4 linked regions of the Homo sapiens genome follow. The protein of the gene in region 2 purifies or fractionates together with the protein of the main gene of each other region. This does not show direct contact. Each region holds a gene or a part of one and is shown on either strand. Other genes may lie near its edges.

Region 1 (4,134 bases), on a different chromosome or scaffold from region 2:
ATGTCCTCTTTTTTTCCCGAGACGGAGTCTCGCACTGTCGCCCGGGCTGGTGTGCAGTGGTGAGATCTCGGCTCGCTCCAACCTCCGCCTCCCGGGTTCAAGCGATTCTCCTGCCTCAGCCTCCCAAGTAGCTAGGATTACAGGCGCCCGCCACCACGCCTGGCTAATTTTTTGCATTATTAGTAGAGACGGGGTTTCACTATGTTGGTCAGGCTGGTCTCGGACTCTTGACCTCGTGATCCGCTCGCCTCGGCCTCTCAAAATGCTGGGATTACAGGCGTGAGCCACTGCGCCCAGCCAAAGTGCATGTCTCTTTTCAACGTTTGCCTTCTGGGCTAGGCGGCTTGGCTCATGCCTGTAATCCCAGCACTTTGGGTGGCCGAGACCAACGGATCGCTTGAGTCCAGGAGTTCCAGACCAGCCTAAGATAGGGAGATGCCATCTCTCTAGGAGGATCGCGTGAGCCCGGGGAAGTTGAGGCTGCAGTGAGCCGAGATCGAGCCACTGCACACCAGCCTGGGTGAGGGTAAGACCTTGTTTCAGTAAACAAACAAATAAATAAGTTTGCCTTCCGTAAGGTTTCTAATAACGTTTTTCTTCCATCCACAGATGTAAACCTGTTTCCCCATAGTCACACCAACAGTGGTCATTACCAAGGTTTTACATCTTTGCTAAACCGAGTAAAAAGAAAACTTGCTGTTTTCATTTCCATTCTTGTCTAATAATAGTTTAAACAGTTTTGTATATCCTTAGTGGCTATTTGTTTGACTTTTTTGTTTTTTGGGAGGCCTGTTCTAATATTTGCTCATTTTCCTTCTGGGGTTGTTGGCCTTTTTCTTATTGGCTTATTAAGCAACATAATTAATATATATTATGTCATGTATATATAAACAATCTTATCTTGCAGTTCCCTAGTTTGGCTTTTAACCTATCGTCTTTTGAGCTGCAGTTTCAACCCAGTCTGTACAGGAAGTAACAACTGTCCAGAAGAGTCTGAAAGCCCTTGGGGCCAGCAGCCAGTGAGCGGAACCAGCACGTCCTGACAGACAGGTTTGCCCCGTCCCTTCCCTCCCTCCCCCTCCCCCTCCCCTTCGCCTCCCTGTCCCTCTCCCTTTCACCCCTCTTCGGGACGGAGCCAAAGAATGCTCCGCCTGCGCGCGCCGCTTCCGTTGCCATAGTGGCCGGGGGCGGGAGGCTGGCGCCTCCCAGCTTCTGTACTCCGCGAAGCAAAACCTAGGGAGCTGAGGCCTAGGCGAGGCGAGAGTCGCCGGCGTGCGTAACGTTGGCGCACGTGACTCCGGCCCGGCCTACAGGGCGCGTGCGCAGTGGGACTTGAGTGCCTCCTGGTCCCTGTCTGCCGGCATTCGCGGCTGCGGGGCCCGGAGGTGGGACTGGCTTCCCGGTGCCGCGAGGGCGGGTCCGGACAGCCTTCCCCCCAGTCCGGCGCACCATCTCCCTGCCTTGTGGCTGGAGGCGCCGCGGACCCAAAGGGAGGGACCATCCCGGGAAGCAGCCCCGAGAGCGGAAGTGCAGAATGGCTTCCTCGAGAGAGTAAAGTGCAGCCTCTCCAGACACTGGGGCCCCAGTGGGCGTGGGCGAAGGTAATCCAGGCCTGGGTACGATTCCGGGCCCTCCTTCGACTTCCCAGCGGGTGAGCCAGGGGCTGGGACTGAGTTTCCTCCAGGTCAGGGACCGGGCCTCTGGAGTGGGGTTTGGGACTTACTTCACTAGATGAAATGAGATATGGGGTGCCCGGCCCAAAGTCAGCCCTGGATACTCACTGGCCGTTGTTTTCACAGTTGCTGGTAGGAGGAGTTGGCGGAAGCACTTGGAACTCCTTTATAAGTGTCAGCTGTGAGGTAAAAACTGTTGATGAGATCTTGTGGGTTTTGTTTTGGGTTCACTAATTTGGGCGGGGGCTACATAACTGCCTACTTGAGTTTGCAATATGAGAATGGTAATAGCGACCCACTTAGCAGAATTATGATGTCACAAAGCTCAAAGGACTGTTTAATGAAAGGCTCAGAGGATCATATACTGGAAAATTTTTCCACACACGCTGTAAGCCACATGCTTTTTTTTTTTTTTTTAAGTCATGCATTTAAGTGCTGGAGTGAAGTTGAGGTGCACTATTAATGACTCATATTCAGAACCTGAAGAGAGAGATCCCTTTTGTGCTAAGTATGATATCCACTCATTTATTCAGTAATACTGAGTGCTTACTGTGTACCAGGCAATGTCCAACTTCTTGGAATGGTCTATGTGTAAACAAAACAAAGATCTCTGTCCTGTGGAGCTTACATTCTAGTTTGGGGAAGACAAATAATAAACAGTAAACAAAAAGAAGGAAGTTATAGGTTGGAAGTACATGAGTACCATAGGAAAAAAATACAGCGAGGTAAGAGGCATGGGGAATGCAAGATGCAATCTTAGGTAGGCTTCACTGAGAAAATGACATTTGAGCAAATATTGGAAGGAGGTGAAGGAGTTAGCTGTGCTGACAGCTGGGGAAAGAGCATTCCAGGCAGAGGGACCACCAATGCAGAAAGACTTTTGTCTTGGAATGTGCTTGGTGTCTTCAGTGAACAGCAGAAAGGCCTGTTTGGCTGGAGTAGTGAGTAAGGGAGTAGTAATAAAAATTAGGTGGCAACACAGCAAAAGTATAGTCAGAACGGTGGAGTGTCTGAATCACTTAAGTTGTCCTCATGTGAAGGTAATTTCCTATTAGCTTAGGTAAGGTTTCACAGCTTAACTACAGCCGTTAATTAGTATGTGAAGTTAATGATTAAAATTAGACTTTTTCCGAAATAGAGTATAGATGAGATCTAAACATGGCTGTAGTTTCCAGCAAGCACAATGCGAATTAAGACAGAGGAGCTTGTTGAAAAAAACTTTTATATGCCCTTATTTTAAGATTTTAGTGAATGTGGAAACACCTCAGTTTTGTCTTCCTTTAGAAATTTGTCTAAATATAGCTCTACCAGTAAAAAAGAAACAAACAAAAAACAGGCATAGTGGCTGACACCTGTAATCCCAGCACCTTGGAAGGCCGAGTTGGAGGGATTGCTTGAGCCCAGGATTTTGAGACCAGCCTGGGCAACAGAGCAAGACCCCATCTCCACAATTTTTTTTTTAACTAACTGGGTGTGGTGGTGCACGTCTGTAGTCCCAACTCCTTTGGAGGCTGAGGTGGGAGGATCCTTTGAGCCTGGGAAGAGGTCAAGGCTGCAGGGAGCTATGACCTGTGCCACTGCACTCCAGCCTGGGTAGCAGAGTGAGACCCTGTCTCAAAAAAAAACTTTTTTTTAATATAAATATACCGTGGCAAACAAATGACTAAGAAGACACCTGTTACTTCAAGGAAATTACAAACTGGTAGAGTAGACTTGCAAATAATTTAAACAAAATAAGAAAGAATGAAAAAAGTGTGCTAAAAGAACAGTACAAAGTAAATGCTAAAAGAAACATCATCTGAATATTATTGTATGTATTACAGCAGTAGTTCCCTTTGTTTCTCATTTTGTCCTTGAACATCTGCTTTTCTGGAGTGATGATTTGATTGCCAATTTTTTCATATTTAACAAATTCAGATTTTTTTGAAAATCATTTGTAGAATGCATTGTGTATGCTAAATAAGTGCAGAATTTGTGAACTAAAGCATCTATTGATTAACATTGCACTAACAGGTACCATGTAATATTCATTGCTCTCCCTGCTGGAATTTGTAACTTTTCCAAAACTATGCCATTAAGCCATACTTCTCATATCCTTTTTCCTCTTCAGAAGGAAGAGGTTTCTTTGTTTCTGGTTTCTTTGGCAGTGTTGACTGCCAGAGTATGTAGAGTGACTATTTGTAATTTGTATATTCAATATGTATATTTCTTCAGTATAAAATTCTGCTATCCAAGTGTTAAGTTTTAGTGGCTAGAAGAAATAATGATATGTTATGGTGGAAGTGTGGAGCTGTCTGAACCATATGAAAGCCAGGAATCTATAGTTTGAGACATACCGGGTAAACAGTTGGTCACTTTCAGCATCAAGCAGAAAAAGGCTAACCACTCAAGTACAGCACAGTTTACAAGCAGTATGATGATGAACGTTAGTTGATGACCTGTATAGGTGATTGGTACCACC
Region 2 (3,500 bases):
GGCACAACTCTGGCCCCTTGTTCTCTGGTGTGACAGTGGACATTTGTGAGCCTGACCTCCTTTCCAGAACATACCTTGCCCACACTGCCATCCTCATAAAACCTCAAATGGGGTCTTTAAGGTCCCTTTGCCCATCCTCTTCCTCATTATAGCTCATCCTCCCGGTGAGCTCTGCTGGGCTGGTTACTTGTGTCTATCTACTCTTTTTTTTTTTTTTGGAGACAGAGTCTCGCTGTGTCACCCAGGCTGGAGCGCGATCTTGGCTCACTGCAACCTCTGCCTCCTCAGTAGCTGGGATGATAGACATGCACCACCATGCCCAGCTAGTTTTTGTATTTTTAGTAGAGATGGGGTTTCACCGTGTTGGCCAGGCTGGTCTCGAACTCCTGACCTCAAGTGATCCGCCTGCCTCGGCCTCCCAAAGTGCTGGGATTACAGGCATGAGCCACCACGCCCGGCCAACTTGTGTCTACTCTTTATGGTTGAAGAAACCAGAAGCACAGAGAGGGTTCAGGATTGCTGAAGGTCACACAGCATCATGCAGGACACCAAGCACAGAGAGTGTAGGCCTGTGGATCTCACAACTGTACAGTGGAGTCACCTGTGGGCCTTCAAACTTCCCAGCCCAGGGACCCAGACCCAGCCCAGGCCGCAGAGTTGGTCAGATGGCCTCTTATGCTAGTGCTTAGGTCAGAGTCCTAAACTTATGTCAAGGTCGTTTGTGTGGCCAGGGTAGAGAAATCCCGATGTCTGATTCCAGCCTTTTTTCCTCACTCCAGTGGAGTCCCCACCACAGGCACCTGCTTTCTTTTTTAAAAAAATTTTTTTTTGAGACAGGGTCTTACTCTCTTCACAGGCTGGAGTGCAATAGTGTGATCTCAGCTCACTGCAACCTCCGCCTCCTGGGCTCAAGCAATCCTCTCACCTCAGCCTCCTGAGTAGCTGGGTCTACAGGCGTGCACCACCATGCCCAGCTAATTTTTGTATTTTTTGTAGAGATGAGGTTTTGCCATGTTGGCCAGGCTGGTCTCAAACTCCTGAGCTCAAGTAATCAACCCACTTCGGCCTCCCAAAGTGCTGGAATTACAGGTGTGAGCCACTGTGCCCGGCCACCTGCCTCCTTTTTTGGGAGGCCGACAGGGTCTCACTCTGTTGGCCAGGCTGGGGGGCAGTGGCGCCATCATAACTCACTGTAGCCTCGACCTCCTGGGCTCAGGCGATCCTCCTGCCTCAGCTTCCCGAGTAGCTGTGTCTCCAGGTGTGTGTCACCATGCCTAACTTAGGTTTTGATTTTTCGTAGAGACAAAGTCTCCCTATGTTGTCCAGGCTGGTCTCAATCTCCTGGACTTAAGTGATCCTCTCACCTCAGCCTCCCAGAGTGCTGGGATTATAGGCGTGAGCCACCATGCCCGGCCCTCTTTTTTATCTTGAATTAATTTCTCATTAAGTAAGGCCCACACCTGGCTTCCTGGTAGAACATCACCCATCCTGCCAAACCTGAAGCTCTCTCTGCCTCCCCAGTGATGGGTTTTCTTCCGCTTGTGAAACGGCCTCCTCAGCAAATGTCCCTCCAAGGCCCTTCTCCTGGGTGGACTGGGAGAACACAGGCACCGCTGGAAGGCTTGGGGGACCCAGCCTGCCCCTCCTGCTCTGCCAGGTTGCTGTGAGGCCCGACCCCACACTGAGGGGCCCCCTGCGTGAATGTGCACCCTCTCCTGTCTCCACAGTGGAATCCTTCGAGGAGGTGGAGGACAGCCTGTGTGTCCCCCAGTATAACAAGTACAGGGAGGAGAGGGTGATCCTCTTCCTGAAGATGGCCTCCGGGCACGCCTTCCAGCCTGACTTGGTTAAGAGGATCCGTGACGCCATCCGCATGGGCTTGTCTGCGCGACACGTGCCCAGCCTCATCCTGGAAACCAAGGGCATCCCGGTATGGCCATCTCCCGCCAGCGAGGAGACCGCAGCCATCGCCCCACGAGCCCACACATTGAGGGGCGCTTACATCTGAGCAGCTTGCCGGTGCTTTATATATCGTTTGTCCACGTTGCCTAGCAACGCCATCCTCTCCCTGCCATCCTTTTTCCTACCCTTCCTAAGACTGCATTTAAAGCAACTTCTGCTAAATACCCATGTTCAGAGGGTTAGCAGGCCCAGCCCTGCAGGTCCAACTGGCTTCTCCCTGCTATCCCCTGGTTTTAGTGTATTCTCAAAATTTTTAATGAGAACATTAATTTTAACTTTTTATTTTTTATTTTATTTTTTTGAGACTGAGTCTGTCACCCAGGCTGGAATGCAATGGCTCAATCTCAGCTCACTGCAACCTCCGCTTCCCAGGTTCAAGCAGTTCTCCTGCCTCAGCCTCCTGAGTTAACTGGTAGCTGGGATTACAGTCACATGCCAGCATGCCTGGCTAATTTTTGTATTCTTAGTAAAGATGGGGTTTTGCCATGTTGGCCAGGCTGGTTTCAAACTCCTGACCTCAAGTGATCCGCCCACCTCAGCCTCCCAAAGTGCTGGGATTACAGGCGTAAGCCACTCTACCCAGCCAATTTTAACTTTTTAAAGTGCTGCTGGGAGCCGTTGCTGTTGCCTTTTAGTTTTAAGTTCTGCTGGTACAGACAAGACTTGACTCTTTTTAGAGGCAGGTCTTCCTAAGGCTGTGTCGTCATCCCCCAGCCCCTGGCCCCAGTACGCTCTGCTTTGATTCTAAGTGGGGGAGGAGGAGGGTCACCCAAATTGGATCACAGCTTTCATTTGCATTGCTTACAAAACGGATACCCCGCAAGCTGACAGAAGCTGCTGTGTGTGTGTGAGTGTGTGTGTGTATGTGAATGTATACAACAATTTAGACAGTGGCAGGCTGTATTTGAAGCCTATGGAATGGCTATTCGTTAAGGAGAAGATGGGAGCACACACTCACTGGGTTCCCAGGGGAAGCTGACTTTGATGTTGCCCGGGAGCAGGGCTGATTCTGTGAGGTGTAACTAGAGACAGGATTTACCAGGAGAGTCTGCTTCCTGGAGAATGTTGAAATATCTGATGCCGTTTACTTTGAAACCCGTAGATCATTCTCTTTGCCTTAAAAGTTATTTCAACATCTTCAAAACAACCTGTCCAGGAGTGGGGGCTGGGGAGAGCGCTTGCAGCACGACAACGGTGTGCAATCCCTGATCATCCCTGGAAGACTGACTCCTACTCGGGACCCTGTTCCTCCTCCTCCCGGCGCCTGTCCACATCTGCGCTGACTCCCACTCGGGACCCCTGTCCCTCCTCCTCCCGGCGCCTGCCCGCATCTGCGGTGTTGGTTGCTTTTTGTGGTGTCCACACGTTTCCTTTGTGTTCTGGTTCTGCATGGGAAGAGCCCTGCAGCTTGGGGCTTTCCATCCATCTCTTTCTTTTTCCCTTATTTTTGGTTGGTGACTCTTGGCGGCTCTCTGTGGGGACACTGATGCTCTCCAAGAAGGTACTTCTTGAATCAGTGACCCTTATTGTCTTTTTCT
Region 3 (3,500 bases), on a different chromosome or scaffold from region 2:
AGAGGACCCTGCGGCCTTCCGCAGTGTTTGTCCCTGATTACTTGAGATTAGGGAGTGGTGATGACTCTTAACGAGCATGCTGCCTTCAAGCATCTGTTTAGCAAAGCACATCTTGCACCACCCTTAATCCATTTAACCCTGAGTGGACACAGCACACGTTTCAGAGAGCACAGGGTTGGGGGTAAGGTCACAGACCAACAAGATCCCAAGGCAGAAGAATTTTTCTTAGTGCAGAACAAAATGAAAAGTCTCCCATGTCTACTTCTTTCTACACAGACACGGCAACCATCCGATTTCTCAATCTTCTCCCCACCTTTCCCGCCTTTCTATTCCACAAAGCCGCCATTGTCATCCTGGCCCATTCTCAATGAACTGTTGGGCACACCTCCCAGACGGGGTGGTGGCCAGGCAGAGGGGCTCCTCACTTCCCAGTAGGGGCGGCCGGGCAGAGGCGCCCCTCACCTCCCGGACGGGGCGGCTGGCCGGGCAGGGGGCTGACCCCTCCACCTCCCTCCCAGACGGGGCAGCTGGCCAGGCTGGGGGCTGACCCCCCCACCTCCCTCCCGGACGGGGCGGCTGGCCGGGTGGGGGGCTGACCCCCCCACCTCCCTCCCGGACGGGGCGGCTGGCCGGGCAGAGGGGCTCCTCACTTCCCAGTAGGGGCGGCCGGGCAGAGGCGCCCCTCACCTCCCAGACGGGGCGGCTGGCCAGGTGGGGGGGCTGACCCCCCCCCCCGGACGGGGTGGCTGGCCGGGCGGGGGGCTGACCCCCCCCACCTCCCTCCCGGACGGGGCGGCTGGCCGGGCAGAGGGGCTCCTCACTTCCCAGTAGGGGCGGCCGGGCAGAGGCGCCCCTCACCTCCCAGACGGGGCAGCTGGCCGGGCAGGGGGCTGACCCCCCCACCTCCCTCCCGGACGGGGCGGCTGGCCGGGCAGAGGGGCTCCTCACTTCCCAGTAGGGGCGGCCGGGCAGAGGCGCCCCTCACCTCCCAGACGGGGCGGCTGGCCAGGTGGGGGGGCTGACCCCCCCCCCCGGACGGGGTGGCTGGCCGGGCGGGGGGCTGACCCCCCCCACCTCCCTCCCGGACGGGGCGGCTGGCCGGGCAGAGGGGCTCCTCACTTCCCAGTAGGGGCGGCCGGGCAGAGGCGCCCCTCACCTCCCAGACGGGGCAGCTGGCCGGGCAGGGGGCTGACCCCCCCACCTCCCTCCCGGACGGGGCGGCTGGCCGGGCGGGGGGCTGACCCCCCCACCTCCCTCCCGGACGGGGCGGCTGGCCGGGCGGGGGGGCTGACCCCCCCCACCTCCCTCCCCGACGGGGCGGCTGGCCGGGCGGGGGGCTGACCCCCCCACCTCCCTCCCCGACGGGGCGGCTGGCCGGGCGGAGACGCTCCTCACTTCCCAGATGGGGGGGCTGCCGGGCGGAGACGCTCCTCACTTCCCAGATGGGGTGGCTGCCGGGTGGAGAGGCTCCTCACTTCTCAGACGGGGCAGCTGCCGGGCGGAGGGGCTTCCTCACTTCTCAGACGGGGTGGTTGCCAGGCAGAGGGTCTCCTCACTTCTCAGACGGGGCGGCCGGACAGAGACGCTCCTCACCTCCCAGACGGGGTTGCGGCCGGGCAGAGGCGCTCCTCACATCCCAGATGGGGAGGCGGGGCAGAGGCGCTCCCCACATCTCAGACGATGGGCGGCCGGGCAGAGACGCTCCTCACTTCCTAGATGTGATGGCAGCCGGGAAGAGGCGCCGCTCCTCACTTCCTAGATGGGATGGCGGCCAGGCGGAGACGCTCCTCACTTTCCAGACTAGGCAGCCAGGCAGAGGGGCTCCTCACATCCCAGACGATGCGCGGCCAGGCAGAGACACTCCTCACTTCCCAGATGGGGTGGCGGCCGGGCAGAGGCTGCAATCTCGGCACTTTGGGAGGCCAAGGCAGACGGCTGGGAGGTGGAGGTTGCAGCGAGCCGAGATCACGCCACTGCACTCCAGCCTGGGCACCATTGAGCACTGAGTGAACCAGACTCCGTCTGCAATCCCGGCACCTCGGGAGGCCGAGGCTGGCGGATCACTCGCGGTTAGGGGCTGGAGACCTGCCCGGCCAACACAGCGAAACCCCGTCTCCACCAAAACCAGTCAGGCGTGGCGGCGCGTGCCTGCAATCGCAGGCACTCGGCAGGCTGAGGCAGGAGAATCAGGCAGGGAGGTTGCAGTGAGCCGAGATGGCGGCAGTACAGTCCAGCTTCGGCTCCGCATGAGAGGGAGACCGTGGAAAGAGAGGGAGACCGTGGAAAGAGAGGGACACCGTGGGGAGAGGGAGAGGAAGAGCAATACAACTATTCTTAACCCTTGATTTAAATCTTTTGGGGAAGGGGATGTATGAATGTTCTTCACCTCAGACCTGTTTGCTAAAGGTGAATAGACATTCCTGAATAAAACAGAGCTTTCTACTCATCACGGCTCTTCTCAGCCCTCTCCACTATGGAAAATAAGCCATAAAGTCATCCAGGAGAGAAACCTACAAACAACTCTTCACTTAGCAAGAACAGACACCGGGCCACAGATAATTGCTCTTATTTTACAATACATTTAAACAAATATGATTAAAATACTTGCATTATAGCTAAAATGCTATAGAAAATTACTGTTATTCTCTGAAAAATAAATTAAATGAAATTGACAACAACGGTATTCAACCTCCTAAAAATCCTTGTCTTTGAAGATCCAGATTATAAAGATCACATGCTTAACACATTTGGGGCCAAGATGATGTCTGCTTAGAAAGCTCTTCATGACTCCATGTTTACACTGGAAAAAAGAAGTCAAGGATTTCACTGCATCCACACTAACACTTAGCTCCTAGTGCTACTCATGAAATTTAAGGTAAACATACAAAAGTTCCTAAAAAAGACTGAGTAGCCACGCAGTATACTGACAGCGTGACTTGTCCAAAATAGTTATATACAAGTTGTTTGTCCATAAACCAGCAGAACTTTAATACAATATATTTCCTTTAGAGAATATGTGCCATCAAGGTGAAAATAGGATCAAACTGAAAAGATAGTTCAGCTTAAGTTGATTGCAAACTGCGACCATGTCTTACCTTTTCAGGTCAACAGTCGTCACACTAAATACAACTCCTTTGAGCCAAAGAATCATGAAGAGCCTCTGGGAAAAGGGGCAGTTTCCTATGCTTTCACCATCACTGCCAGCCTGGAAAACAGAATTAAACATTAAAAACAAGGTCAAAGTGATGATACTCAACATGACATAACTTTTTCTGAATTTTAATCAAGAGTACAAGAAGCCAGGAAAAGTTACATTGTGGAAGGAAGAGTAGAAATTTGGGTCTTTATTATTTTGTTCTTTCATTAGCCTTTTTTTTTTTTTTTCTTTTTTTGAGACAGGGTCTCCTTCTGTCACCCAGGCTGGAGTGCAGTGGTGCGATCTCAGCTCACTGCAACCTTCACCTCCCATCTTAGCCTCCCAAGCAGCTGGAGCTACAGGC
Region 4 (3,500 bases), on a different chromosome or scaffold from region 2:
GTTCTTGGCTCCAGGCTTCCTGGCCTGGATGCTGGCAGCCCCTGGGGAGAGGACCCAGGCCCCCTCTAGTAATGGCCACCACCCTCCCCCCAGGGCAGCTGGAGCCTCATCTTTGGCAGGGTCCCCTCTCCCTTTTCCAGGAGACTCTGTGCCTGTAGCCCTGGTCCCAGTGAACCTGGCCCCCACCCCAGTGGCTGGAACAGGAAGGCCAGGAGGCAGATGGGCCAGGGCCAGGAGACAGATGGCCCAATCCCCTGCCCACCACAGCAGCTTTTCTGAGAGGCGGGCAGGGGCAGGGTTTGCTCCCCCTGGTGCTGGGATGTGGTAGAGACATTGCAGCCAGGGCTGGAGGCAGGGAGGCGGGAGTAGAGATGTCGCTGCTGAGCCCCCATCACCATGGGAGGCAGGGGAGGTCTGCACTCTGGGCACTCCGCATGCTGGGGCTCCCCAAGTGTTAGGCCAGGCTGGAGGGCCGCGATGTGGCGGGGAAGCCCCAGACCCTACAGGAAAGCCCTTGCAAGTCCCCACCGGGGACCCAGCCCCACCGCAAACCTCTACGGCTACGGTGCCGGCCGCAAGGCATGCTGGGAGGCCTGCTTGGCCCGGTGCCGCCGCAGCCTCACAAAGACCTGGGCTTCTCGGTCACCCTTCCGGCCCTCCAGCAGCTGCAGGATTGGGTCCCCTGCGGAGAGAGGGGTTTGGGGGTCAGATGCCAGGGGAGAGGGCAGTGCCTGGTGGTGGCAGAGAAGAGTGTGTGGGGGGGTACACAACACTGCTCCATCTCCCCAACAACCTGGAAGGAAACAAGTGACAGACCCGCGCCAGCCCAGCCCAGGAGGTGGTCTGACAGACGCATCCGGTCGGGTCGCGTAACAGACAGAGTGCTGCTGGGACACTGTCCTGACTGCAGCGAGGGGCTGAGATGTGCCTGAGGTTTGACTATTACCTTTTTATACGAGAACCTAAAGCTAGCAAGTTAACCTTTTCATGCCTCGGTTTACTCATCTGTAAAAGAGTGCTAATATCTGCTTCGTTGGCTGGAATGCATAAAGTGCTTAGCACTTGCTCATAATAAGTGCACAAGCATCAGACCGTTGCTGGTATCAAAAATGCTCTGCAGGGAAGCGGCCCCGCCGAGTGAGATCCAGGCCCTTCTCCCCAGTTAAACTTCTTGGTGACTTCCCCATGCAAGGAGAGTCACGTTACACTTAGCTTAAAGTTCACTGGTCTCTTGATTAGACCGAGAGATGGGCCGTGGCTGTCCCACTGGCTCCCGTCTCCAGGGAAGCTGTTCTCCGACCCTGGCATCACCTCTCTGGGGCCCCTGCCTGAGCTTTACAGGCTCCCGTCCCCGCACCACCCTGCCCTGGGCTCAGGCCTACCGTTGGGTGCGGGGTACGTGAGGGGCAGGCGGGTCTGAGGCACCTCACCAGGCTCCTCAGAGCCACTCAGCCCGGGCACCTCACGCAGCGGCAGGAAGGCCTCGCCTTCCAGGTCGTCGGCCCCCAGCGTGTCGTAGTCCAGCACGGTGAGCAGGAGGCATGCCCCAGCCTTGCGGCACGGCTCAGCAGGCACCAGGCTGCGGGGAGAGTCAGGGCTCTGCTGCCAGCCCCAGCACAGCCACCCCAGCCTCGGCACATGGGTTCACCCACTTGGTGTTGGGAACCAGCCAGGGTTTGGACTGCAAAGCCAGCTCTCAGCCTGGCACCTCTCAGCCATGTGGTGCAATGCCTGCTCTGACCGTGGGCTGATGCTTTAAACCAGCGGTCCTGTGTTCCCTGTTCACCTGTGCTGAGGAACTAGGAGCAGGTTACTGAGAACCTCAGAGACAGGACCCTTCCCTGGAAGTCCCTAAGTTAAACACCTGGGAGTCCACCCCTTCCCCCAAGGGAAGCAAACTTTTTTTTCTGAGACGGAGTCTTGCTCTGTCACCTAGGCTGGAGTGCAGTGGCGCCATCTTGGCTCACTACAACCTCCGCCTCCCGGGTTCAAGTGGTTCTCCTGCCTCAGCCTCCCGAGTAGCTGGGACTGCAGGCGTGTCCCACCACACCCAGCTAATTTTTTGTTTTTAGTAGAGACGGGGTTTCACCATGTTAGCCAGGATGGTCTTGATCTCCTGACCTCGTGATCCGCCCGCCTTGGCCTCCCAAAGTGCTGAGATTACAGGCATGAGCCACCACGCCTGGCCCTCTTTTTTTTTTTTTTTTTTTTTGAGATGGAGTCTCACTCTGTCGCCCAGGCTGGAGTGCAGTGGCACCATCTCAGCAGCCTCTGCCTCCTGGGTTAAGCAATTCTCCTGCCTCAGCCTCCCGAGTAGCTGAGAGTACAGGTACCCACCATCATGCCCGGCTAATTTTGTATTTTTAGTAGAGACTGTTGGCCAGGCTGGTCTTGAACTCCTGACCTCAAGTGATCCGCCTGCCTCGGCCTCCCAAAGTGCTGTGATGACAGGTGTGAGCCACCACATCCAGCTGCAAACTCTTGTCCCAGATGCCCCATCCCTTGGGCCCAAATGTGGCCATCTCAGGGGAGCCCCTTGGCCCCAGCCAGGAGGAGCAGGCCTGAGGGAGCCCAGTGGGGAGAGATGAGGGGAGGGACTGGGAGAAGAACGGGACCCACTCACAATTCAAAGGTCTCATCAAACAATGGGTGAAGGTCCTTCTTGTGCTTCTGGGTCTCCCGGGCGGCCAGCTCAGGGAACTCATGCCTGGGCTCCAAGGTCAGCTGGACAAAGGGGTCGCTGGAGCCTGGTAAGTGGCCGGGGAGTGTGCGTCAGCTGAGGGTCTCCCAGGCACCCCACCCCAGCAGCTATGCTCTGCTCAGCGGCACTGACCCCTCCTGGTAACTGGAGGAAATGCACCCAGAGCTCCTGCAGGGTGAGCGAAGCCCCCAGGGTCGCTGAGACAGGAGGGCCAGGACGGGACCATGGAGAGTGGCCAAAGGCAGCCTCCACTCACCATTGGAGTCCAGGGGCAGCAGGCTGGAGGCGCTGAGCAGCTCCACACGCAGCTTCTGCTCAGAGGCGCGGTAGGAGGCCTTGACTGTCACAGCCCCCAGCTCCTCAGAGGTGGTTTCTGCCTGGGGTGGGGAGCAGGGGCAGGGTCAGCAGGGTCACAGCGGGAGCGGGGTGCTCCAGGGCCTGCAGAGGGCGCAGTGCGAGGGAGGGGCCTCACCTGCTGCTGGATTCGGCTGCAGAAGTACTTCCGGATGAGTTCCCGGCTGGAGGCCGCCTGCAGCTCCAGGTCCCTCTGCAGAGCCTGGGAACACATACAGCTGAGGATCCACCTGGACTGCACGCCCAACCACAGCCCAGGCCTGCCCTCCAGGAGCTCACTGTCAAGGGTAACATGTCCGTTTGAAATGGAAAGTATTGGGTCATGGGACAACGGGCTGGGGCCACCCTCAGGCCAGACAGACAGCAGGAGAGGCACAGACAGGGCTGGCTTCACAGGCGTGCTTCCCCGACCCCACCCCCCATGCGGGCACACAGGGCCCCTGTG

What was found. Proteins that work in one complex are often made in the same cells at the same time.
Region 1: the proteins of AACS (region 2) and CMTR2 fractionate together in Homo sapiens (co-fractionation; one large-scale study listed by BioGRID). This does not show direct contact.
Region 3: the proteins of AACS (region 2) and CLIC4 fractionate together in Homo sapiens (co-fractionation; one large-scale study listed by BioGRID). This does not show direct contact.
Region 4: the proteins of AACS (region 2) and UNC13D fractionate together in Homo sapiens (co-fractionation; one large-scale study listed by BioGRID). This does not show direct contact.

What each region holds. Positions count from the first base shown.
Region 1 is NC_000016.10:71,286,603-71,290,736, reverse strand, and holds the start of CMTR2 (cap-specific mRNA (nucleoside-2'-O-)-methyltransferase 2), read left to right. Parts: upstream 1-1,334; 5' UTR 1,335-1,601; exon of another isoform or gene 1,602-1,799; 5' UTR 1,800-1,859; exon of another isoform or gene 1,860-2,181; intron 2,182-4,134.
Region 2 is NC_000012.12:125,134,935-125,138,434, forward strand, and holds part of AACS (acetoacetyl-CoA synthetase), read left to right. Parts: intron 1-1,727; coding exon 1,728-1,930; coding exon of another isoform or gene 1,931-2,008; exon of another isoform or gene 2,009-3,500.
Region 3 is NC_000001.11:24,797,447-24,800,946, reverse strand, and holds part of CLIC4 (chloride intracellular channel protein 4), read right to left. Parts: intron 3,206-3,500; coding exon 3,096-3,205; intron 1-3,095. UniProt on the Homo sapiens protein: In the soluble state, catalyzes glutaredoxin-like thiol disulfide exchange reactions with reduced glutathione as electron donor. Can insert into membranes and form voltage-dependent multi-ion conductive channels.
Region 4 is NC_000017.11:75,827,405-75,830,904, forward strand, and holds part of UNC13D (protein unc-13 homolog D), read right to left. Parts: intron 3,258-3,500; coding exon 3,174-3,257; intron 3,079-3,173; coding exon 2,958-3,078; intron 2,748-2,957; coding exon 2,624-2,747; intron 1,580-2,623; coding exon 1,383-1,579; intron 683-1,382; coding exon 561-682; 3' UTR 1-560. UniProt on the Homo sapiens protein: Plays a role in cytotoxic granule exocytosis in lymphocytes. Required for both granule maturation and granule docking and priming at the immunologic synapse.